Homo sapiens: one gene and its partners. The protein of the gene in region 7 interacts with the protein of the main gene of each other region in a pairwise test. Each region holds a gene or a part of one and is shown on either strand. Other genes may lie near its edges. The genes, in order: LGALS8, GNAO1, DRC7, THBS3, FAHD2A, PABIR3 and NEK7.

Region 1 (3,500 bases), about 38 Mb from region 7:
AGAAATAGCCTTTCAGTGGTAGTAAGTTTAAAAAAGATGACTTCCTGAAGCGGAAGCTTGTGAGACATTTAAGATGACTTTGCGCATGTTAGAGTTAAAAACATCCCAAGGTTGTAAACTGATTTCCTGCAAAGATCTTAACAACAACAACAACAACAAACTAGGCTGCCTGCCACGGGTGTCTGAAGTATCATCTTGGCTCAAGCTGGGAGAATGGATAAAGGTTACACTGTTCATTTCTGCCCTTCACACAGAAAAGAAGATAATTTTATAGGTAAAATTCGTGCATATCTTGATTCTAGCATACTGCTGATTCCTGTAGTTTCTGGGGTCAGTACTCTCAACTATTGAGGTGGAACAAAAATAAGTAGACTTCATTTCTTGAGGAAGGGGATCTGGAGAAGTAGTTCTGCGCTAGAGCAGAAAATGCCTTCAGTCTTGTGGCATGGGCTGGATGCTGTTCTGAGGATAATGCATTTCCAAGGGAGATATTTTTGGCAAATAGCTTTTTTTTCTTTCTTTTCAAAATTCTCTGTTTTATTATCAGTTCTCACAAAAGAGTCGGAAAGGTTAGAGGTAGACTGAACTGAATGGCAAAAACATTTTGCGCTCTCTTTACGTTTCACTGCTGTAAAATATTTATAGTATAAAGGGCCTGTATTGCACTGAATTTCTCTCATTTGTAGCTAGTTGCCCTTTCAATGTTCCAAAAAAAAAGGCTGTAAATAACTTATTTTATTTATTCAATTAATTTTTTTTTTTTAATTTTTTGAGATATAGTTTCCCTCTGGTCACCCAGGCTGGAGTGAAATGATGCAATCTCGGCTTACTGCAATTTCTGCCTCCCGGGTTCAAGCAATTCTAGTGCCTCAGCCTCCTGAGTAGCTGGGACTGCAGGCACGTGCTACCATGCCCGGCTAATTTTTGTGTTTTTAGTAGATATGGGGTTTCACAGTGTTGGCCAGCCTAGTCTCAAACTCCTGACCTCAGGTGATGTGCCCACCTTGACCTCCAAAAGTGCTGGGATTACAGGCGTGAGGCACCATGCCTGGCCAACTTAGTTATTTAAAGATAATCAATTAGTATATTTTATAAGCTAGACTTAGGAAAACGGTTTTCAGCTGGGCATGGTGGCTCACACCTGTAATCCCAGCACTTTGGGAGGCCGAGGCAGGTGGATCACGAGGTCAGGAGTTCAAGACCAGCCTGGCCAAGATGGCGAAACTCCGTCTCTACTTAAAAATACAAAAATTAGCCAGGCGTGATGGCAGCCTCCTGTAATCCCAGCTACTCGGGAGGCTGAGGCAAGAGAATCACTTGAACCTGGGAGGCGGAGGTTGCAGTGAGCCGAGATGGTGCCACTGCACTCCAGCCTGGGTGACAGAGCGAGACTCCATCTCAAAAAAAAAAAAACCCCCCCACACACAAAACCTGTTTTCTTGAATCATGGTTGTTTTGTTACTGATAGGTTCAATAAGTAAATATATTTATTGTCTGTTGTATTCTTTATTAGGCATTATAAACACACCGCCACTTTTTAATTTTTATTTCATTAATGTTTCCAATTTTTTTTTTTTTTTTTTTTTTTAAGACAGAGGCTCGCTCTGTCATCCAGGCTGGAGTGGAGTGGTGCAGTCTTACCCCACTGCAACCTCCACCTCCTGGGCTCAGCCTTGTAAATAGCTGGGACTACAGGCATGCACCACCATGCCTGGCTAATTTTTGTATTTTTTTTGGTAAAGACAGAGTTTTGCCATGTTTCTCAGTCTGGTCAAGCACTCCTCCCGCCTCGGCCTCCCAAAGTGTTGGGATTACAGGCATGAGCCACCATGCCTGGCCTATTTCTAATATTTTGGTCCACATTGGTGTTAGACCAACTGTCCACATTAAGTTTTCTTGGAAAAGATGAAGTAAATATTGCAACTGGCCTATGTATTTTTTTCCCTATTTAGTATATTTCTTTGACTAGTTCAACTGATAGAATTCCAAGACTTAAAAAAGTCAGGCTCTAAGGCTGGGTCCAGAGGCTCATGCCTGTAATTCCAGCACTGTGGGAGGCCAAGGCTAGTGGATCACTTGAGCCCAGGAGTTCAAGACCAGCTTGAGCAACATAGTGAGACCTTGTCTCTCTATAAAAATACAAAAATTAACTGGGGATTGTGGCGCATGTCTGTAGTCCCAGCTATGAGGAAGAGTGAGGTGGGAGGATTGCTTGAGCCCAGGAGGTTGAGGCTGCAGTGAGCTGTGAGTTTGACACTGTGCTTCATTCTGGGTGACAGAGCAAGAACCATGTTCAAAAATAAAAATAAAAAGTCAGAGTCCGGGTGCTGCGGCTCATGCCTGTAATCCCAGCACTTTGGGAAGCCGAGGCGAGAGGATCACTTGAGGTCAGGAGTTCGAGACCAGCCTGACTAACACAGTGAAACCCCGTCTCTACTAAAAATACAAAAATTAGCCGGGCATGGTGGCGGTGGCCTGTAATCCCAGCTACATGGGAGGTTGAGGCAGGAGAATCACTTGAACCCGGGAGGTGGAGGTTGTAATGAGCCAAGATTGCACAACTGCACTGCATCCTGGGCGACAGAGTGATACTTCATCTCAAAAAAAAAAAAAGAAAAAAAAAGTTAGGCTTCCTTTTCTGTTTTTTTTTTTTTTTCTTTCTTCTCTTTTTTTTTTTTTTTTTAAGAGATGGAGGCTTGCTCTATTGCCCATGCTGGAGTGCAGTGGTGCAATCTCGGCTCACTGCCACCTTTGCCTCCTGGGTTCTAGCAATTCTCCTGCCTCAGCCTCCCGAGTAGCTGGGACTACAGGCGCACACCGCCACGCCCCGCTAATTGTTCTTTTGTATTTTAGTAGAGACGGGGTTTCACCATGTTGGCCAGCCTGGTCTCGAACTCCTGAGCTCAGGCAATCCGCCCGCCTCGGCCTCCCAAAGTGCTAGGATTATAGGCGTGAACCACCGTGGCTGGCCACTTACTTTTCTTTCTATTGAATTTGAATGAATAATTTGGAAGACAGTATCTTTACTTCATACCAGGAATGCTGCCAGTGAAATTTCTTGTTTGGCAGTTCATTATCTACCTATATATTTAATTTTGCTATTGTTTATAGAGTTCTTAAGATATGATTAAATGCTAGCTGGTTAAGAAATCATTTAGAAATGAAACAGAATTGGTTGTTACTCCAAGTTAATAAGTTGCTTGTCAACATAAATCCTACCTGGTACCCAGTTTTCTTAGGAACCTTGCTTCCATGTTTATCCTTTTCTGCTTAGTATTCTAAGTACTCCTTTTTTACCTTACAATTTAGTCTTAAAACACAACACAGTCAAGTCTTTCTTTTGTAACCTGTGAGATACCTTCTAGCCTTTGTGCTGTTTTTCTTCTCTTTTTGCTGCCTGCCTTCCTGACTGAGAGTGGATTTCCTCACTAAGGCTCTGCCCTCTGATTTTTCACTCTCTTTTCTTTTTTGGTTTTACTAGTGAAATTTTGTCTTTAATG
Region 2 (3,500 bases), on a different chromosome or scaffold from region 7:
ACATTTCCTGTCTTAGCAGTTAGACCTCAGCTTCTGACAAAGTCTTGGGCCCAGTATAGAAAGCAGATCAGAGTAGGTTTGTTGTGCTGGAAAGGAGAGGGAGGACTCACAGGGCTGCCACAGCACGTGCTTCCAGGGGGTGCCATTGACACCCTAATGCCCCAACCACCAAAGCACTTCTCTGCCCAGCCCTTTACAGGGGAGGGACCAGGGCACAGGCTCCTGAGCAGGCTCTTGGTGCACCCCGGCCTCTGTGAACAGGGCTGGCTCTCCCTTCTGGATAACTACCTAGAGGCAGGTCCCAGAAACCCTGGGCACATCCAACCAGGGGCTGTGAAAGGTGCTCTGGGGCCTGGTTGGCATTGGCTTTCCTCAAATCCAGTTCCCCACTGAGTTGTCCATGCTGGCGTCCGACGTTTCCTCTCCTCACCTTCTCTCTTGACCCCACTCCTATCGAGCTCTTGCTCCTCCGCCTGCTGAGATGGCTCATAGCCCAGTCCTATCCTGGGGGCTGCTCCATCAGCCTCCTCCCACTCAGGGTTCAGGGTTCAGTCCCCTAGTACCTGGTACCTCCTTTCACTCCCAGCCCCCGCCTCCTCTCGGGCCGCCCTTTCCAGACTCCCTCGATGCCTCCTGCCCACCCACCCAGGCAACTGGTGATGGGGGAGGTCTGCTGGGGGCTGCTGTATCCCGTCCCCAAGCTCCATCCCAGAAGCACCTCCTCTCAAGGCCTGGTGCCTGGTGACCTTCTCCTGTCTCGTTTTAAACACCTTGTACACTTGGACAACTCTCAAATTCATATCGCCAGCCCAGCCCTCCCTCCTGACTTCTGCCTACTCAGTGCCTGTTTGGACATCAAATGAGTCTCAAGTTAACATGAGCCCGTGGAACCCCTGGCTCCCATCCTCCCACTAGAAGCTGCTCTGTGTGCTCCTCCCTCCCTCTAAATGTGTCTCATTCCACCACGTGGAGGTATCTCTACTTCTGCTCGTCCTCCTGTATCCCACACCGAGGCCACCAGCAGATGCAGCTCCCCTGGCAGGTACATCAGATTCTGACCACTCACACCCTCCACAGCCACCCCCACTGTGCCAGTGCCATCTGGTGACGACAGCAGCTCTGCAGGCCCCACCCGCTGACCTGCTCTCATGGCAGCAACAGGGCCGTTGTCAACATGCTTCTGGCCAGAACCCTCGAGGGGCTCCCATCTCACTCAGAGCAAAAGCTCAAGCCCTGACAATGACCTCAAGGGCCTGCTTGCCCCAGCCGGACTCTGGCCACCCTCACCTCCACCACCTTCCCCAGCCTCACCCACCACCTGGCCCCTCCACGTGTGCTTCCTGCCGCCATGCCTGCCAGTGTTTCCACTGGGCCACTCGAGGCCCACTTGCTCCCTCATTCCCCTCAGTCTCCCCTATCCAGACGCCTTCCCCAACCACCCTGCATCAAATAGCAGCCCCCAGCAGCTCTCCCCCATCACTAATAGCCTGATTCGTTCTCTCACACTACCTCCTGACATATCATCTCTCTGACTCTTCTGTTTACCACCTCACACACGTGTGCACACTCACTTGGAACACAGGCCCTGGGAAGGTGGGGCTGTGTCGACTGCCCCATCCCCAGCTCCTGGAACAGTGGCTAGGTGGGATGGACAGCAGGTGCACAGTCAGCCTTCCCGACTGGGTTGTTAAGCAGTTCTCCCACACCTTGCCCACCCTCCACAGCCGTCTCCTTGCATGAGGCTCGGCCAGCACAGAGAGGCCAGAGGGCCAGGTTGCCCATCTAAAGGAGGTTTGCCCTGGCTGGGAAAGGAAGAGCAGGACCAAACGCTTCCAGGCTGGTGTCCAGCTGCAGATGACAGCAGAGGGCGTCCTCACAGCTTGGAAGCAGAGGTCATGGGCGCCAGGGCGGGGCAGGCACAGAGGCTTGGGAGAGGCTCCTTCTGGCTGAGACCAGAGCCTGCCCAGATGCCACTGGCTGGCGAGGAGGCTGTGAGGCCGGGGGCGTGTACAGGTCTGCTCTGCAGCCTCGGCTCTCTCACCCCATCCCCACACCGTTCCTGTCCACGGAGGGCAGTCAGGCTCAGGAGAGGAGGCCAGGAGTCCTGTTTAAATTTTTTTTCTGGATTTTTAAAATGCTGATGATGTCCAGTTTAAGAGCGTGGGGTCTGGAGCCAGTCAGAACTGGGCTGGAATCCCAGCCAAGTGCATTTTCTTTTTTTCTTTTTTTTTTTTTTCTCCCCGAGACAGAGTCTTGCTCTGTCACCCAGGCTGGAGTACAGTGGCACGATCTCAACTCACTGCAACCTCCGCCTCCTGGGTTGAAGCGATTCTCCTGCCTCAGCCTCCTGAGTGCTGGGATTATAGGCACCTGCCACCAGGCCCAGCTAATTTTTGCATTTTTAGTAGAGATGGGGTTTCACCATGTTGGCCAGGATGGTCTCAAAATCCTGACCTCATGATCCGCCCACCTTGGCCTCCCAAAGTGCTGGGATTACAGGCGTGAGCCACCGCACCCGGCTGCCAAGTTCATTTTCTCGCAGTGTGACTTCAAGCTTACCTCCCTGAGCCTTGGAAGCCACCCTTCTGTTTTCTTTTCTTAGGGGCATTCTCACAAGGATTGTCACTGGGTTCTATCAGTGAACACCCTAGCTGGCGAAGTCATCTGCCCTTTCCAGCCCTGTGGACATCCATGAGCTGGTCAGCATGCCCATCTCTCATGCAGTGGTAACTGCAGGTCCAGCCAGCAAGCTGGCCCCCAGCAGGTCCTGGAGCAGATGCAGCCTGGGACCCCACATCGTTCTGTGGTTCAGACACTTGGGGCTCCTCCCTGTGGGCTGCTTGTGGTTTGCCCCGGCAGCAGGGATGGGTGGCCTGGCAGGCTCCATGGATCACTGAGTCTTCCTTCAGGCCTGGCCCAGCTCCCCACTTCCTGATTTCCCAGATCCTACCCTGGCTTTAGGTTCAAACTTAACCCACAATGAACCCCAAAGCCCTTGCAGGCAGCGTCCTCTGAGTGCTTGGCCTGAGGCCTGGGCAGGTGACTTGCAAAAGCCTGGTCTGTCCCCACAGCAGGAGGTAGCAGGGGTAAAGAGCCCTGATTCCAAAGACCGGGTCCCAGGGAGGCCCAGCCGCTGTATGGCTGTGCAGCCCTGAGCCTCCAAGAGCATCAAATTGGAAGGGGCACACAGACCCCTTGGTAAGTGAGAAGGAAGTGTGGAGAAGGCAGGGAACTGCTCAGGGGCCGCTGAAGCCCCAGACAGTAATAAAATTATGGCCTCTGGAGCCAAGGGTCCGGGTCACAGCCTCAGGCAAGGTACTTACCTTCGATGAGCCCCAGTTTTAGTACATTTAACTCAGGGAAATTACACATGAAACATGGTTACACATGCAAAGAATAGAACCTATCTGTTGGCCATTATTATCTTTTAAATGAAAAAATGACAAAACAGTATTATAATAAACATGGTAGTCTCATATAAAAGCTTGATCTTGTCTGAG
Region 3 (3,500 bases), on a different chromosome or scaffold from region 7:
ACCACCTCTCCAGGCAGCCTACTCCATTGCTAGACATCCCTTACTGCTAGAAAGAGCTTCTTTGGCATGCTGCCATTACACACAGTTGCCAACTAATTTGTAATGACATGAAGGGGAAAATGCACAATTTCATGTTAAGTGGGTAATACAGGGACTCTAATCCCTGGGTCCCGATCTCAATTACATTAGAAAAAACTCTCAAAACCAAACCTATAATCCGTGGCAACATATGAGAGATGCCATTCTGAGATATGTTTACTTTTCTCTACATTTTTACATATTTTCCAAATGTTTAGTCATGAGTGTGTATTTTTGTATAACAATAAGGAAGTAACACATCCTTGGCCCCATGGCTGAGGGCACAGTCTGACACCAGACAACCCCAGGATGGCGCATTTGGTGATATGGTTTAGTTTCGTGTCCCCCCACCAAAATCTCACCTTGAACTGTAATCCCCATAGGTCAAGGGCGGGACCAGGTGGAGATAATTGAATCATGGAGGTGGTTTCCCCCATGCTATTCTCGTGATAGTGAGTGAGTTCTCCCACGATCTGATGGTTTTATAAGCAGCTTCCCCTTTGCTCAGCACTTATTCTCTCTCCTGCTGCCCTGATTCTAGTGAAAAGGACCCTTTTCACTAGGCAGAAGGTGGAAAGGACCCTTTTCACTAGGCAGAAGGTGAAAAGGACCCTTCTGCCATGATTTTAAGTTTCCTAAGGGCTCCCCAGCCATGCAGAACTGTGAGTCAAGGAAACTTCTTTTCTTTATAAATTACCCAGTCTCAGGTATTTCTTCAAAGCAGCATGAGAACAGACTAATACATTTGGTAAAATGCTTGGTTCATCATTGGTGCCCTTGGATATGTCTCAGGCCTTAATGCCACCCCAGAGCCAGGGCTCTCACCATTCAGAGGTGACATCAGCTGCCAGAGAAGGAGGGCGACCTGTCCCCAGCCCCCGCGAGCTCTTACCACAATGGGCCGGGGGTTTGACTCTGCACTGCTCAGAGTGAGCTTCTTGACTCGGGGTCCGAAGCTGGCATGGCGGTAGGAGAGGAAGTCTGGGCGTCCTTGATAGTACTCTGTCATTGTCCTGGGTGTCTCCTCCCGCTTCATCAGGCCATCCACACGGGCCGTTTCATAAAACTCAATGACACGGTCCATCTCAGGTTGCATGGACTTGTACGAGTGCACTGGGTGGGGAGCGGGAGTTGGGAGGAGACAGCTTCATAAGCACTAGGAAGTATGGCTGCTGGCTTGGTCGCCCAACCCCAGGCCCAGGGAGAAGACAGACCCACATTATGGATGAGGTTAGCTATGAACCAGTCCCCTATTGCTGGGTGTTTAGGTTGCGTACAACTTTTTCTGATTATTACCAACACCATGATGAACATCTGCATCGTGCATTTTTTGTTCTTGTCCATTATTTGCTAAGAATAAATTCTCAGCAGTGGAATTGCTGGGCCCAAAAGTGTACTTTTTTTTTTTTTTTTTTTTTGAGACACAGCCTCGCTCTGTCACCCAGGCTGGAGTGCAGTGGTGTGATCTCAGCTCACCGCAGTCTCCGCCACCTGGGTTCAAGTGACTCTCCTGTCTCAGCCTCCCAAGTAACTGGGACTACAGGCACCTGCCACCACACCTGGCTAATTTTTGTATTTTTAGTAGAAACGGGGTTTCACCATGTTGGCCAGGCTGGTCTCAAACTCCTGACCTCAGGTGATCCACCCAAAGTGCTGTGATTATAGGTGTGCGCCACTGTGCCCAGCCAAAAGCGTACACGTTTTATGGTCATTATCAATATTTTGCCCAACTGTCCTCCAGAAAAGTTCCAATCTGCTGTCCCATCAACAGTGACACAGAGTGACTGTTGCTCCCATACTTGTTCATACCCAGTAGGACCATTTTTTTCATCTTTGCCAACATGGGGGTTATAAGATGGTCCTTTATTGGTTAGGGACCTTATTAGTTTCTTTTTTTTTATTATCAACTTCCAAATGAGGTTGATCATTTAAAAAAAATGTATATTACTCCTATGCTTTTCTTTTGTAAATTTCTTGGTCAGGATTTTTTTTTTTTTCTTGAGACAGGATCTCTATCTGTCACCCAGGCTGGAGTGCAGTGGCATAATCTCGGCTCACTGCAGCCTCGACCTCCTGGGTTCAAGTGATTCTCCTGCCTTAGTCTCCTGAGTAGCTGGGATTACAAGCACATGCCACCATGCCTGGCTAATTTTTATATTTTTTGTAGAGATGGGGTTTCACCATATAGCCCAGGCTGGTCTTGAACCCCTGGGCTCAACTGCCCATGTTGGCCTCCCAAAGCGCTTGGATTACAGGTGTGAGCCCCTGTGTCCGGCACTGCCTCCTTTAAATGTGGCCTCCACCGTGTGACCCCATGGTGAGGTTCCGGCCTGATTCCAACCACAGAACGGGTATGTGGCGCCCCCTTTAGCTTTCCTGGAGGAGCATTTGTTATATTTCCTTAGAATTTCTGAGCTTTCCCTGACCTCCCACACATCGGGTTTGCTGAGGGAGGCAGGGCAGCTTCTACTGCTTGCTGCCCAAGAACCCATGTATAATATGTATGCTGGTTCCTGCCACCACATACCACCTGCCACAGGGTGTGTGAGGCCTCTACCCCAGGCTCCTGGGTGGCCCAGGAAAGGGGAGCCACGCACCGCGCAGAGCCTGGGGGTGGCCAGGCTTGAAGTAGTCTGTCTTCAGGTCTGTGGTCTTGTTTATGTGTTTCAGCTCCAGCATGTCTTCCCGGTTCTGGTACCACTCCTTTATCTCCAAAATATTGGTACCTGTGGGGCCGATGGACACTTGCCGCAGCCAGGCCAGCTCCCCTAGCCTTCAACCCCCCTTATTCCAGGCACACAGAGGCCAGCAATGACCCCAGAGAGAGTAGAAGCCGCCCCCGCCCCTGGGCTGGCCTGGACCCATGTCCAGAGCAATCCCCCTTACACTGCAAGTCCTCATAGGTGGTGAGGCGGCTCACAAGGCCATTGCTATTGAGGTACGGGGCCCACTTCTCCAGCTTTGCCCTCTTGTACTGAATCACCTTCTTCCCGTTCGGGCAGCGGGTCTCAAATGCTGTGGACACAGTCAGCTGTGGTCTCTTCTTGCTAGTTTGGGGGAAGGGAGGGCCAGCCCCGCCCAGCCATTCATCCATCCACTGCCCGTTCTCTGTGTACTGAACTCCTCCAGCCCCAAGCCTGATCCAGGGAGGCCGAGGAGAATAATCACCAGGGGTGGCTCCAGCCCTAGAGGGGTTCTCAGGCCAGGCAGAAGCACAGATCCACCCAAGAATGGGATTTGAGCCCCATCAGAGGGTCTGCCCTGCAGCCAACCACACTCTCACATTGCCAGGCCTTTGCTTGTACAGGTCTCTGCCAGAAACACCGTCATCCCCTCCTCCCCTTGTTGGACTGACTCCTTCAGATCCTTCCAAACTTCACCCAGGTGACCCCTAGCCTACTTCTGGTACCCCTTTCTGCTCA
Region 4 (3,500 bases), about 43 Mb from region 7:
TGGAAGGAAAAGGGAGGGTCTGGGGAAAGGAGTAGGGCTATGTTTAGGGCCTGGGTTGGGGGTCTTCATAGGAGAGAGGTGGGCCTGGGCCCAGGAACTGTTTGGTGGGGAGAATAGGACCTGAAGCAGGGAAAATATAGGGAGGAGGGGAGCCAGACCAAACTGCTAGCTCCTACCCTTTGTGTTGCCCTAGTGTAACGTGGGCTGGGCTGGGAATGGGAACGTGTGTGGGACTGACACAGACATCGATGGCTACCCAGACCAAGCACTGCCCTGCATGGACAACAACAAACACTGCAAACAGGTGCAGGGAGCAGGCGGGCAAGGGGGCGTAGTGGGGAGCCCAAGCTGGGTCAGGCCAGAACTCATCCATCCTCTTCCCCTGAACTTTAGGACAACTGCCTTTTGACACCCAACTCTGGGCAGGAAGATGCTGATAATGATGGTGTGGGGGACCAGTGTGATGATGATGCTGATGGGGATGGGATCAAGAATGTTGAGGTGACTCCCAGACTGCCCTGCCCCTTGAAGCTCCTCTCCCCTCCTCCTGTCCTCTCTGTGCCTCACTTACCTCATCTGGCAGCTCTCTAGTAAGGGCCAAATACTCCAAATCAGGGAGGCAAAAACCTCGTGCCCAGGACAAGGAGGCTGGGTGGGTGGGACTGTACTGAGCAGTTTGTCCATCACAAGGGTGTGATCTTAGAAAAGGATACAGAGACAAGGTAGGTGCAAGATGACAAGTGATTTAGGGGAGACCTGACCCTTCCCCTCCCACCCCTCTGCCCAGGACAACTGCCGGCTGTTCCCCAACAAAGACCAGCAGAACTCAGATACAGATTCATTTGGTGATGCCTGTGACAATTGCCCCAACGTTCCCAACAATGACCAGAAGGACACAGATGGCAATGGGGAAGGAGATGCCTGTGACAACGACGTGGATGGGGATGGTGCAGGCCTGGGGCTGAAGGGGTGGCTGGGGGACCTGTGAGAATTTGGATCAGGTGGGGATGAAGCAGGGAAGCTAGGAAGTCTCTGTGAAATAGGGAGGCAGGCTTGTGGACGTTGGCCTGGGTGAGGAGAGATTACCTGCAGCAGATGTCAATAGGAATGTGAGGTAGGGCGTAGTGTTAGGCAGAGTGTGGACTAGAGGGTGAGACAAGAAACAGGCAGATTTCCTGGCCAGTTGTCCTCTGGGTGGGGAGACAAAGTTCGGGACTTTCACCAACCTAGAAGAGAGAATATGGCATGTTCTAGTAACAACCTTGTGCTACCCATGTCTTCTAGGCATCCCCAATGGATTGGACAATTGCCCTAAAGTCCCCAACCCACTACAGACAGACAGGGATGAGGACGGGGTGGGAGATGCTTGCGACAGCTGCCCTGAAATGAGCAATCCTACCCAGGTACAGGGAGATGGTAAGGACAGGGGAGGGATGAGGGTACTGATGGATGAAGCCCCAGCCCTTTGGATGGAAAGTGGTCAGATCACCCTCTTCAGAGTTATCAAGAGGAGATGGTGAGAACAGGTCCCTCTCTCTCAGACAGATGCAGACAGCGACCTGGTGGGGGATGTCTGTGATACTAATGAAGACAGGTAAGGTCTTGGTCAAGAGACGCAAGGTCTTTCTTTTTTTTGTCTTTCTGAGACGGAGTCTTGCTCTGTCACCTAGGCTGGAGTACAGTGGCACGATCTTGGCTCACTGCAACCTCCGTCTCCCAGGGTCAAGTGATTCTCATGCCTCAACCTCCCTGAGTGGCTAGGATTACAGGCATGTGCTACCAAGCCCAGCTAATTCTTGTATTTTCAGTAGAGACAGGGTTTCACCATGTTGGCCAGGCTGGTCTCGAACTCCTTACCTCAGGTGATCCGCCAGCCTCTGCCTCCCAAAGTGCTGTGATTACAGGTGTGAGCCACTGTGCCAGCGAAATGCAAGGTCTTATAGGGGATATTTTACTTTCCTCTAGTATATCCTTTTTTTTTTTTTTTTGAGACGGAGTCTTGCTCTGTCGCCCAGGCTGGAGTACAGTGGCATGATCTCGGCTCACTGCAAGCTCCACCTCCCGAGTTCACGCCATTCTTCTGCCTCAGCCTCCCAAGTAGCTGGGACTACAGGCGCCTGCCACCACGCCCGGCTAATTTTTTGTGTTTTTAGTAGAGACGGGGTTTCACTGTGTTAACCAGGATGGTCTCGATCTCCTGATCTCGTGATTTGCCTGCCTCAGCCTCCCAAAGTGCTGGGATTACAGGCGTGAGCCACCGTGCCCGGCCTCCTTTTTTTTTTTGAGATGGAGTCTTGCTCTGTCACTCAAGCTGGAGTGCAGTGATATCGGCTCACTGCGACCTCCACCTCCAGGGTTCAAGCGATTTTCCTGCCTCAGCCTCCCGAGTAGCTGGGATTACAGGCGCGTGCTACCAAGCTCAGCTAATTTTTGTGTTTTTAGTAGAGACAGGGTTTCATCGTGTTGGCCAGGCTGGTCTCGAACTCCTGACCTCAGGTGATCTGCCCGCCTTGGCCTCCCAAAGTACTGGGAATACAGGCATGAGCCACTGTGCCCAGGCCATAGTATATTCTAAATTCCTTCTATGATTTAGCCTTAATTCTCTATTGCTATTCAGCAGGAATTTATTCTTACAGTCATCCCTCCATTCCTACTGCCAGACCTTCACCTCACCTGGCTGACTGCCAGGGGTCTGATTGTATGGAGAGCAGGCTCCAGAGACTCCCAGGCAGAAGCGAAGGGAAGGACAAGGAGTACCTTTAAATCCTTTATTTGGTACCTGTTCTTCTGATTAGCGATGGGGATGGGCATCAGGACACCAAGGACAACTGCCCACAGCTGCCAAATAGCTCCCAGCTGGACTCTGATAACGATGGACTTGGAGATGAGTGTGATGGGGATGATGACAATGATGGCATCCCAGATTATGTGCCTCCTGGTCCCGATAACTGCCGCCTGGTACCCAATCCCAATCAGAAGGACTCAGATGGTAAGCCTGCGGACCCAGAGCACGTTAGACTGGTGTTGCCTTTGCCCAGGTGGAGGCAGCAAGCCCTGTTGGGAAGTGAGGAAGGGCAAGGTGGGGAAAGATGTCAGGAATGCAGGCCCAACAGATGGTATTGTTGCCTAATGGCAGTGGCCAGGGCCTTCCTGAGCACCCAGCCTCACTCTGCCCAGGCAATGGCGTTGGTGATGTGTGTGAGGATGACTTTGACAATGATGCTGTGGTCGACCCCCTGGATGTGTGTCCTGAAAGTGCAGAGGTAACGCTTACGGATTTTCGGGCCTATCAGACCGTCGTCCTGGATCCTGAGGGTGATGCTCAGATTGACCCAAACTGGGTTGTGCTCAACCAGGTAACTCGGGGCAGTGGGCTGGGCAGGTGCTATCAGACAGGGCTACTGGGACGGGGGGCCTGGGAGGGATAGCACACCTGCATCACAGCTTTTTCTTTACTATACAACCCCAGGGCATGGAAATCGTTCAGACCATGAACAGTG
Region 5 (3,500 bases), on a different chromosome or scaffold from region 7:
AGGGGTTATCAACCTCAATGCCTTTGACCCCACACTCCCGAAGACGATGACGCAGTTCCTAGAGCAGGGAGAGGCCACCCTCTCAGTGGCAAGAAGGTAAGTAAGTGGGCAGCATCGCCCTGAAGCAGCTGCCCTGGTCCCCCTGCACCCTCCCCGCTCTGGGAAACAGCACCAGCAGGTAGCTCTTTTGCAAGGGAGCAGAGTAACCCCACCTTTCCTTTTCTCCCGTTCTCTTAAAAGATCCTTAGAAATCTTACATAATAACATCTTCAGTTTTCAGAGGAGAAAACTGAGAGCTAGGGGAGGTGATTAACAATTTGAAGGCCATACATGTGGTGCTGGAACCAGGACTCTATACTTCATCACACTGCCTCCTCTGGGAATGAAGTCCTGGACTGACTGACGGGTCTGGGCCCGGGGGTCCTAAAAGGCATCTTATGCAGCTGGGGGAGTGATATAGACTCCCAGCTCCTACAAGGAGAGAGGACTGCAAGGAGGTTTTCTATAAGACACTTGGTTCCTGGGTTTGGACTAGATTAGGTGAGAGTGTCCCTGAAGCCTGGACCCCTATAGAATCTGGTCTAAGGAGCTGATGAACAATAAATTAAAAATACTTTAAGATGTCATTTTCATCTATTAAAATGGAAAAAAATACAAATGTTTCACAGCTCACAGTATTAACAGTATGTTCCCATATTGCCATATTCTGCAAAGACTGGAAATCTCCATGCCCCTCATTAGGGACTTGGGTATATCTCTATAGAGCAGTAATATGCAGCCACAAGAAATAAAGAGGACACTCTCTATGTATTGTTACATATTGTTAAGCAGAGATCTCCAAAATCAGTTGTTTTTTTAAAAGATGTAAATAGTATGCTATCATTTGCATACAAAAGGGTGGGAGAAGAATATCCATAGAGTAGCTGCGAAGAGCCAGGGGAACGGGGTAACCGGAAGGGGAAAGGGAAACCTTTCCATGTATTCCAGTTTGTATCTTTTACATGGACATGAGTTACCTAAGGGGGAGAGGAAATCAACACTGGATAAATAAAAGCCCTGCTCTGATAGCAAAGGACAATAGTCAGTGATTTTCACACTGACTCTGATGGTTGATAGAGCTAGGAAATAGATTTCAAAAAGCAAAACCTGTAGCTGCTGCAGGATCTGCCCAGCCTGCCCGGGATTGCCCACCTGTTCCCAGCCAGACCCTCTCACCTGCTCTGGTCTCTACAGAGCCCTGGCTGCCCAGTTGCCAGTCCTACCACGGTCGGAGGTAACCTTCCTGGCTCCAGTCACACGACCAGATAAGGTGGTGTGTGTGGGCATGAATTATGTGGACCACTGCAAAGAACAGAACGTGCCCGTGCCCAAGGAGCCCATCATCTTCAGCAAGTTTGCCAGCTCCATCGTGGGGCCCTATGATGAGGTGGTCCTCCCACCACAGAGCCAGGTCAGTGTCTCCCCACTGCCCTCCCTAGTCACTGGGCCCATCACAAGGGCATTCTGAGCTCAGTATTGAGCCTACTGGAGCCACCTCTCGCTCAATAGCGCATTCAGCAGAAACTCTACAGGATTGTACACACAGTAGTAACACTGGCCTTGGAAAAAAAAAGTTAATGTACGTGTTTTCCTGGTTACAAAAGCAATGCACCTTCACTGTAGATAATAAAATAGAGATAAACATTAAAAAATTATGTCACCCATAATCCCACTGCCCATGGCTCGGAATATTAATGTTTTTCTGTCTACCTTCCCAGTGTTTCTCCGCTCCTGTATATGTTTATACTGTACATATACTTACCTTTTACTTAAGACTCCATCAGGAGCATTTTTTCATGCCATTAAGTATTCGCCCTGACACCACGGAGTTTGTTATGTAGATTAGTTTATTCCTGAGTACCTTACTGCTGGATACTGTTTCTAGTTTTTGGCTTCTATAAATAAATGTTGCAGTAAACATCCTTATGTGGAAAAGGCTTTGCATGTCCATTAATACATTATTATTTCCTTTGAATAAACCCTTTGGAATTTAAATATGTCAGCGTATAGGCAGTATTTCAAAATTTTTGAAAAATTCTGCCAATTGGCCTTTTAAAAAATTGTAAAAGCAACTTACACATCCACCAGTAGTGTATATACCCTTTCTAACACTGGTTACTTTTTCTCTCAGATTTTTATTTTAGAAATGTCTTGAAAATTATAGAAAAGCTGGGAAAATAATACAGTGAACACTCAGATAACTTTTCCACCTGGTTTCATTGTAAACATTTGGCCATATATCCTTTTTCTCCCTTGTCTTCTCCCTGCCCTCCACATGGCAAACACACATTTTTTTTTTTTTTTTTTTTTTTTGCAGGGTATGGGGTGGAGGGGACCTTTTAAAACACATTGGAAATATTAAGACAATTTAGTCATAAAAACGTAAATAGGCATCTTCTAAGAATAAGGACAATGGCTTGCATGACCATCCCACCATTATCACAACCAAAAAAATTAACTTGAATAATATTTAATATGAAATCCAATTGCCCCAATTCCCAATCGGAAGTACTGCTGACTTCCCCAAAGATAACTTCTAATTTGGTTACTTCGTTTGTTGCTCCATGATCAACCAAGGCCACACACTGTATTCAGTTATATCTCTTTAGTGGTTTCAATCTAGGACAGGGTTCCATAGACTTTTTCTTAAAGGGCTGTATTAGTCTGTTTTCATGCTGCTGATAAAGACATATCCGAGACTGAGCAATTTACAAAAAAAAGAGGTTTAATTGGACTTACAGTTCCACGTGGCTAGGGAAGCCTCACAATCATGGCAGAAGGCAAGGAGGAGCAAGTCACATCTTAGGTGGATAGCAGCAGGCAGAAAAGAGCTTGTGCAGAGAAACTCCCATTTTTAAAACTATCAGATCTCATGAGACCCATTCACTATCATGAGAACAGCACGGGAAAGACCTGCCCCCATGATTCAGTCATCTCCCACCGGGTCCGTCCCATAGCACGTTAGAATTATGGGAGCTACAAGTTGAGATTTGGGTGGGGACACAGAGCTAAACCATATCAAGGGCCAATTAGTAAATATTAGGCTTTGCGTGTCATATGTTCTGTTTTGCAACAATTCAACTCTGCTGTTATAGTGTGAAAACCACGATACAGAAATGAATGATGGGTTTCCAATCAAAGTTGATTATAGCAGATGTTGAGCTGGCCATAGTTTGCCAACTCCTGCTCTCAAACAATACCCCCTGCCCTTTCCTTGAAGAATCCAGTTGTCTCATAGCATGTTTCACATTCTGGGTTTGTCTGGTTGTTTCTTCATGATTAGTGTCAGGGTAAGCATTTTTATCAAGAGATCTACAAAGCAGATGTTATACATTTTCCATCGTATCCCACTGGGAGGCTCATGTCAGTGGTCCCAGAATTTGACCACTTGGTTTAGCTGACATTCACTAGGTCCCTCCATTGTGAAGATGCATTTCTATTTTTGTAATAAGCAATCCATG
Region 6 (3,500 bases), on a different chromosome or scaffold from region 7:
CACACCTGTAATCCCAACACTTTTGGAGGCCAAGGCAGGCAGATCACCTAAGGTCAGGAGTTCGAGACCAGCCTGGCCAACATGGTGAAACCCTGTGTCTACTAAAAAAATACAAAATTAGCCGAGTGTGGTGGTGCATGCCTGTAATCCCAGCTACTTGGGAGGCTGAGGCAGGAGAATCACTTGAACCCAGGAGGCGGAGGCTGCAGTGAGCTTAAATCACGCCACTGCACTCCAGCCTCGGTGACAAGAGCCAAACTGCATCTCAGAAAAAAAGTAAAAATAAAAACAAAGAAAAGCAGTAAAATGATGTAATATCCTACACAGAGTCCCGTTTTTGTGTATGTCCTTAGATCTGTTATAATGAAATAGTCATTGTTGATTTTGTTAAAAAAAATTTCTTATAATGATCATGATGATTTTATTTTAGAAGAAGTCAAAATCCTACCAACATTATTAGACCAAGTATCCTTGGACCATTAAAAAGAAAAGGTACTTTTATCTAACAGTAGAAGTAAATATAACTTTAAGTTATTTTATAAAATATCTAAAATCAAATGTTATACAAAAATGTATTTTTAAAGGCTTTATTTATTTAAAATATATTTAATAAGCTATTAGAGGCCTTTCATTTTATGCAACTAGAAATATGTATAAGGACATTTTGAAAACTCTAAAATGCTATATAAATGTGAATTGAGAAATTTAATTCCAATTTAGTTGGCTATTAGGATTTTCAATATAATTCACCAAGGTAGCTATCTTCATTACTTTCTAAAACAATGTAGAGAATAAATGAATGAATGAACAGAGTGAGTCAGTCATCAAGTATTTTGCTGAATGTCAACCCCTGCCTCACTGCCACACACACACATTGCTATCATATGAATAAGTTGACACAAATTAGATCCACTTACAACACTAAAAATATATATGAAGGTGTATGTTCTTTGGTGTTTAGTTTCTTTATGGGAGTTATTTTTGGTTAAATATATGGAAAGTGACCCACCTACTCAGTAATAAAAGGGCAGTGGAAAGAATAAAAGGGCAGTGGAAAGATGTCTTTTTTAAAAACTCCTGCAATCCTGGATCCCACTTCTCAATGGTACCTCACTAAATTATGCTCTTCTTCCTTTTTTTTTTTTTTTTTTCTTGAGACAGAGTCTTGCTCTGTCACCCAGGCTGGAGTGCAGTGGCACAATCTTGGCTCACTGCAACCTCTTCCTCCCGGGTTCAAGCGATTCTCCTGCCTCAGCCTCACCAGTAGCTGGGATTACAGGTGCCTGCCACCATGCCCAGCTAATTTTTTTGTATTTTTAGTAGAGACAGAGTTTCACCATGTTGGCCAGGCTGTTCTCGAACTCCTGACCTCAGGTGATCCACCCACCTCGGCCTCCCAAAGTGCTGAGATTGCAAGCATAAGCCTGTATATTTAGTACAATTTTTGACTACAATGGGGAGGGGAAATGGGTGAATAGGAAAGGAGATTAAACTTAAAAATGTGTATTGTGAAAAATCTATTAAGGTAAGAAAGAGGAGTAAGAAGAATAAGAGGAGAGAAACTGAAATATGCTTTAATGTTCTTTGTATATTTTCGATTAATTAATGGCAGTCTTCCTAACAACATAACTAACTCAGCATGTACTTTTTGTATTCTAAGATTAAGGGCTAGATAAATTCTGGAAAATACTCTTTTCCAAAGTAAGCACATTGTTTTATGAAGATGCTTCGGTTACTAAGCTTAGGGGTCTTTTACCTGTGCTGTGAAATTCGGGCTAGTGTTGAAAAAATATTCAAATATATCAGCAGTTTAAGAGCTGTTAGAAGTCAAGGGTCAATTGAGTATTTAAAATAAAGTACGCTTAAATTGAGGAGTGTTTTACCAGATTAAAATAGTTCTCCTTTTGAGACATGTATACATAAATAGGTTATCACATGAAAAGTATCTCGAGTTTTCTTAGAATTTATGATTGAAAAATTATTTTTATAGATCAATTTTAACATAAAAGATGTAGTTTCTGCCCAGTGTCTTCGGAGATGTGACCTGTCTCACACTTGGTTTTCAGCTGCTCTGAAAGACGACTGCCTTATTCCTTTGAGGTGTCCCTGAGGGAACTCCAAAGCGAATTCTGTATATACCACCTAGTCCATATTTTCAGTCATACCCCACCCTCCAAAGCATGCCCTGTACAAATGTGCTGAAAATTCATTTGGCCATTTTTGGCCAGATACAATAACAGATAAACAGAAATTGAAATTTATTCATATATTTTGGAATATGCATATTCATTTGGGAAACAACAAACTATGTCCTATTTGGACCCCATTAATACAAATGAAATGTGGGAGAAAGGTACCATAAAAATAAAAGAGAGGTCCTGAGGCAGGGGGCGGGGGGAACTAAAAAGAATGATGATTATGTGAAGTGAGATCAAGATTAGAGTCTCCAAAGCATATGATGTCATATTTTATGGTGAGAAGCAGCAGTGACTTCCATTAGGAATAAGCAAGAGCATGGGCCGGGCACAGTGGCTCATGCCTGTAATCCCAGCACTTTGGGAGGCCGAGGCGGGCGGATGACTTGAGGTCAGGAATTCAAGACCAGCCTGGCCAACATGACAAAACCCTGTCTCTACTAAAAATACAAAAATTAGCCAAGGGTGGTGGTGTGTGCCTGTAATCCCAGCTACTCAGGAGACTGAGGCAGGAGAATCGCCTGAATCCAGGAGGCGGAAGTTGCAGTGAGCCGAGATCACACCACTGCACTCCAGCCTGGACAACAGAGTAAGACTCTGTCTGGAAAAAAAAAAAAAAAGGAATAAGCGAGAGCAAATAAGCCTTCACATCGGAATACTGCAGAAATTGGGCAGCTATAAATATCGTTTGACAAGTAATGCTGGTTTTAGCAAAGAAAGATCTAATTTTCTTTTATGAGGAATATGTTTTGATTTGTCATGTTTTCAATGTTAAACCAAAAAAGAGAGCTGAGTAGTTTTTCTGTAGTGACATAAATGTAATCTGGCAAGGCACGGGACACCAGACTTCTTTTAAACTTTATGAGCCATGATTACACTTCTGTGGAAGGTCTATGCAATATCTTAATGGTGACCTTAGGGTTTTATCATTCAAATAGAAGTTATGGGCTTGAATGTCAGTTTTGCTCAGGTCCAGAAATGATTATCATATGAATGTGAAACACTGTGCAGATTTTAACATTTACTTCAAGGCAAAGATTACAAAAATGCAGTTGTTGTTTTTTTTGAGATTAGATGTTCTACCTTAATCTCTAAAGATACAATTATTTTGTTCATTGTGTGCTGTAAAAGAACTTACCTATTTAGTTCATTGTGTACATTTAGCAAAATAAAGATAGCAACAACCTAAAGTTTTAAAATAAGGAATGACATTAAACTCATTAAACAGCCTTACTACATAGCTATATCAAATCATCTTGCAGGCCGGGCACAGTGGCTCACGCCTGTAATCCCAGCATTTTGGGA
Region 7 (3,500 bases):
CATTTAAGTATTCTTTTTTTTTCCCCTCAATTATTGCGCATTTACTGAAATATAGACTTCTTTTTTTCACTTAAATATGTGGTCTGAGATATCATTAGAGACTTTTACAGTGTTTCCAGAACTAAACACTATTTTCCTAGGAACTATCTGATGTTTTAAGAATGTACCTCTGTAGTATTACAAATGTCGCCACCATTCAGGGTACCTGAGAACTGGGCCTGAGAGCAGGGCCCAGTTAAGTGTTAGTGATTACGCACTTTTGGGGAAAAAAAAAGTAGGTAATTCCAAAATTTCTTTCAGGTTTTGTTTCCCTTGATTTTTTTTTTTTTTTAAATAGGCTTTGGTATTTTAAAAATGCACAGTGTAGTATTTAAAAAATACACAGTGTAGCTGCAGCTGCAGCTGCACAAAACAGCACTCTGTCCTCATTCCCGGTTTCATTCACATTTAAGTGTTTACCCCTTCGAATTTTTGTTGGAAAACTACGAGGGTAGGTATTTCAGTGCATCGTCTATAAAACATATTAAACTTAATGTACGACTTAAGGGTGTCTTGGAAATGCCATGTATGATTACTGTTTGCTCCGAATTGTTTTATCAGCACTTCATCAGGATTTATGTAAATATATAGCAAGATGTTTTAAGACGCATTTCTTTACCCTTTTGAGACTTTTTCAATTTAATTCTCCCCCCTCCACCCATTTTTGTAGGGAATATGGATGAATAACATTTGGTTACATAATTGTAATCAAATATATGCATTTGTATAATATAATGGCAGTTCAGAATTTTTAAATTGATACAATTCAATCTCAGAGTTATAAAACTTCTAAACTGCTGAATTCTCCTTTGGTAATTAATAGTTTGATTATTCCTAGGTGTTGTGTATTTTCACAAAATTTTTTTTATTCTGAAGAAAACACTTACAGAGTATATTTCATGCTTTTCAGTGGGCAGTGGGAATGAGAAGGACAGATGATCATGAAGCATTCCTTAATATTTTTGAGCAGGATAACTTCTTTTTTAACCTTTGTCAAAATAACTGCCCTGCCATACTATTTAGGTAATGAGGTTATACAATGAGTGGTTTTGTTGTAATAGCTATCAAAGTGTTAAGCGGAACAATATATAAATGAATAAAACTGATTTTAGTGGTCTATAAAAATTGAGAAATACGTGTTTTCTGTTACATAATGGAAATAGGCCTTTTTGTAAATCTTATTAGTAGTCTTCTGTTGGTAGTGGGTAAGGGCTACTTTTTCAATCCAGTCTGCTTTTTTATAGAATAGTGATTCACAATTTTTTTCTCTGAAGGATCACATGGTAAATATTTCTGGCTTTGTGAGCCCTGTGATTGCATCTGCTGCCATTGTAGCCAAATACAGTATCTGACCAAGTGGGCATAGGTGTGTTCAAATAAAGCTTTATTTATACAAATAGGTTGGTAGCTTTCCCCCACTCTAGAAAATAATACCAGAGGTCTAAATGTGGTGCTATGCCATTGATGTTTGGGTTGATTCGGAATTTTCCACAACAGCGTTTTATAATTATTTTTGTGCTTAGACTCTTGTGACAATTTGTTGATCTTCCACAGTTCCCTCAGAATAATACCCAGCTGTCCATTCCCAAATTTTGTGTTTCATTTCAGAGTTTGTCAGCATAAGAACCTCTTTTAGGTTTATCCATGTTTTCAGGTTTCTTCACCATTCTTTGCTTCTGGAGGATCCCACTCCTATCCTGTGACATTGAATGAATGCCTGTCTGTGGCTCCCTGCTTCTGACTAAAGCGACATAGAATCTAATGTCAGTCATTTGTCTTTACTAAATGAAAACTACTAGACAAAGAAACATACCAAAACTTACTCATATGTTTCTTTGTCTAGTAGTTTTTATTTTAAGCCTACTGGTATGACTACCTTTGTCTACTTTAGAGGGAATTTTTGACATAAGCAAGGGGTTGGGCAAATTTTTTTCTTTTTAGGAAACATTAACTTAGTCTTTCAAAAAAGACTCTCCCCCGCCCCAGTAAAAAATATTGGAAAGAGCCTGTGCTTTAGCAGAGGGCCTACAGTCAAGGTATGTTTGGCCTGGGGTAGAGGTACTTCTGACCTTTGCTCTGAAAAGAATTAGCTGTAGACTTACCTGGGTGTAGCTACTGAGTAGCATAGAGCAGAATGGAAAATGCAACAGCTTTGTGAAAAAATTACACAGTACACTTTCTCAGCTCTAGTCAGGAGTGGGTTTTGTGTGTGCTGGACTTTTGACCCCTTAGCCCTCGGGGAAGCCCAGGTAGGACCTGGGACAATCAGAATTCCTGGCTAGTTGCCACCAGCTACAAGCAGTCTCTTCTCTTTATCTGACCCTGCTGCACATATATTATCATTATCTGTGTTTACCATGATGTGGAAAAGACTAGGCAGAAAACTCCAGGGTTGTCATTGCCTACTTTATGACCTTGGTTGAGTTGCTCATTTTATTCAGACTGTAGTTGTCGCAACTCATAAAGTTGCCTTGAGGAGTAAATGAAAATACCTTTGTAAATGTATGGTAGCAGGCCCAGTGTTAGTTTCATTTCACTTACTTCTCTATTCTTAGGACCTTCAGGGGTGGGAAACACATCTCCTGTTGTCAGTTTGTTCTGATGACAGGCCCTGTCACCCACTCTGCCTTGGCCCAGTTTTGTCTTAATGGGCTGCTTCCCACTTCTGCCATTTCCACTTCCTCTGCTTGAATTCTCCTTTTCCTTTGCCCTGTGATTTCCATATTCAAAATTTAATGGTTCCTACATTTGAGTTAGTTTTTATGACTTTCTTTGGAGTGTGGGGAGAGCCAGCAAGCCATAGTTTCTCAGGCAGAAAAAGGCACAAGAGGCTTGGGGGGTTATATTATGGACTACAAATAATGTGAGTTGCAAAAAGATCTTTAAATACAGATTCAAAAAATTGGCAAAATTAAAAATGTTCTTCCTAGCATGCTTAAAATTGTTTTTTTAAATTGTTGAAATATTTCCCCTATATCCTTATATTTACCTAGGTGAATTACTATACATTTTATTATGGTTATAATCATAACAAAGACATATGTCCTTATATTATGGTTGGAAAAGTTGAATAGATGTGTTTATGAAAAATTGTTATACTTCTAAAATGTAATGAATTCCTAATCTTGTATTGCCTTTATATCTAACTGCTGGACCATATAGTAAAGTGATATGATACCGGCACAGTGGCTCATACTTGTAGTCTCAGCACTTTGGGAGGCCAAGGTGGGAAGATTGCTTGAGACCTGGAGTTCAAGACCAGCCTGATCAATATAGTGAGACCCTGTCACTACAAAAAATTTAAAAAAAATTAGTTGGGCTTGGTGGCACGCACCTGTAATCCCAGCTACTTGGGAGGCTAAGGCAGGAGGATTGCTTGGGCCTGGAGGATGGCTTGAGTCTAGGATTTCGAGGCTGCAGTGAGCTGTGATGATGCCACCGCACTCCCACCTGGTGACAGA

Evidence for each region.
Region 1: the proteins of NEK7 (region 7) and LGALS8 interact in binary tests that used the Homo sapiens proteins (3 or more experiments, as listed by UniProt).
Region 2: the proteins of NEK7 (region 7) and GNAO1 interact in binary tests that used the Homo sapiens proteins (3 or more experiments, as listed by UniProt).
Region 3: the proteins of NEK7 (region 7) and DRC7 interact in binary tests that used the Homo sapiens proteins (3 or more experiments, as listed by UniProt).
Region 4: the proteins of NEK7 (region 7) and THBS3 interact in binary tests that used the Homo sapiens proteins (3 or more experiments, as listed by UniProt).
Region 5: the proteins of NEK7 (region 7) and FAHD2A interact in binary tests that used the Homo sapiens proteins (3 or more experiments, as listed by UniProt).
Region 6: the proteins of NEK7 (region 7) and PABIR3 interact in binary tests that used the Homo sapiens proteins (3 or more experiments, as listed by UniProt).

Annotation. Positions count from the first base shown.
Region 1 is NC_000001.11:236,526,982-236,530,481, forward strand, and holds part of LGALS8 (galectin-8), read left to right. Parts: intron 1-3,500.
Region 2 is NC_000016.10:56,330,989-56,334,488, forward strand, and holds part of GNAO1 (guanine nucleotide-binding protein G(o) subunit alpha), read left to right. Parts: intron 1-3,500. UniProt on the Homo sapiens protein: Guanine nucleotide-binding proteins (G proteins) function as transducers downstream of G protein-coupled receptors (GPCRs) in numerous signaling cascades.
Region 3 is NC_000016.10:57,722,306-57,725,805, reverse strand, and holds part of DRC7 (dynein regulatory complex subunit 7), read right to left. Parts: intron 3,094-3,500; coding exon 2,965-3,093; intron 2,805-2,964; coding exon 2,676-2,804; intron 1,192-2,675; coding exon 971-1,191; intron 1-970. UniProt on the Homo sapiens protein: Component of the nexin-dynein regulatory complex (N-DRC) a key regulator of ciliary/flagellar motility which maintains the alignment and integrity of the distal axoneme and regulates microtubule sliding in motile axonemes.
Region 4 is NC_000001.11:155,197,898-155,201,397, reverse strand, and holds part of THBS3 (thrombospondin-3 isoform 1 precursor), read left to right. Parts: intron 1-193; coding exon 194-304; intron 305-393; coding exon 394-501; intron 502-571; exon of another isoform or gene 572-698; intron 699-787; coding exon 788-947; intron 948-1,086; exon of another isoform or gene 1,087-1,226; intron 1,227-1,284; coding exon 1,285-1,403; coding exon of another isoform or gene 1,404-1,416; intron 1,417-1,541; coding exon 1,542-1,594; exon of another isoform or gene 1,595-1,600; intron 1,601-2,779; exon of another isoform or gene 2,780-2,795; coding exon 2,796-2,989; exon of another isoform or gene 2,990-3,054; intron 3,055-3,136; exon of another isoform or gene 3,137-3,177; coding exon 3,178-3,356; intron 3,357-3,469; coding exon 3,470-3,500. UniProt on the Homo sapiens protein: Adhesive glycoprotein that mediates cell-to-cell and cell-to-matrix interactions. Can bind to fibrinogen, fibronectin, laminin and type V collagen.
Region 5 is NC_000002.12:95,405,708-95,409,207, forward strand, and holds part of FAHD2A (oxaloacetate tautomerase FAHD2A, mitochondrial), read left to right. Parts: coding exon 1-96; intron 97-1,233; coding exon 1,234-1,450; intron 1,451-3,500. UniProt on the Homo sapiens protein: Tautomerase that converts enol-oxaloacetate, a strong inhibitor of succinate dehydrogenase, to the physiological keto form of oxaloacetate. It is thereby required to maximize aerobic respiration efficiency by preventing succinate dehydrogenase inhibition.
Region 6 is NC_000023.11:134,848,737-134,852,236, forward strand, and holds part of PABIR3 (PABIR family member 1), read left to right. Parts: intron 1-430; coding exon 431-492; intron 493-3,500.
Region 7 is NC_000001.11:198,159,998-198,163,497, forward strand, and holds part of NEK7 (serine/threonine-protein kinase Nek7), read left to right. Parts: intron 1-3,500. UniProt on the Homo sapiens protein: Protein kinase which plays an important role in mitotic cell cycle progression. Required for microtubule nucleation activity of the centrosome, robust mitotic spindle formation and cytokinesis.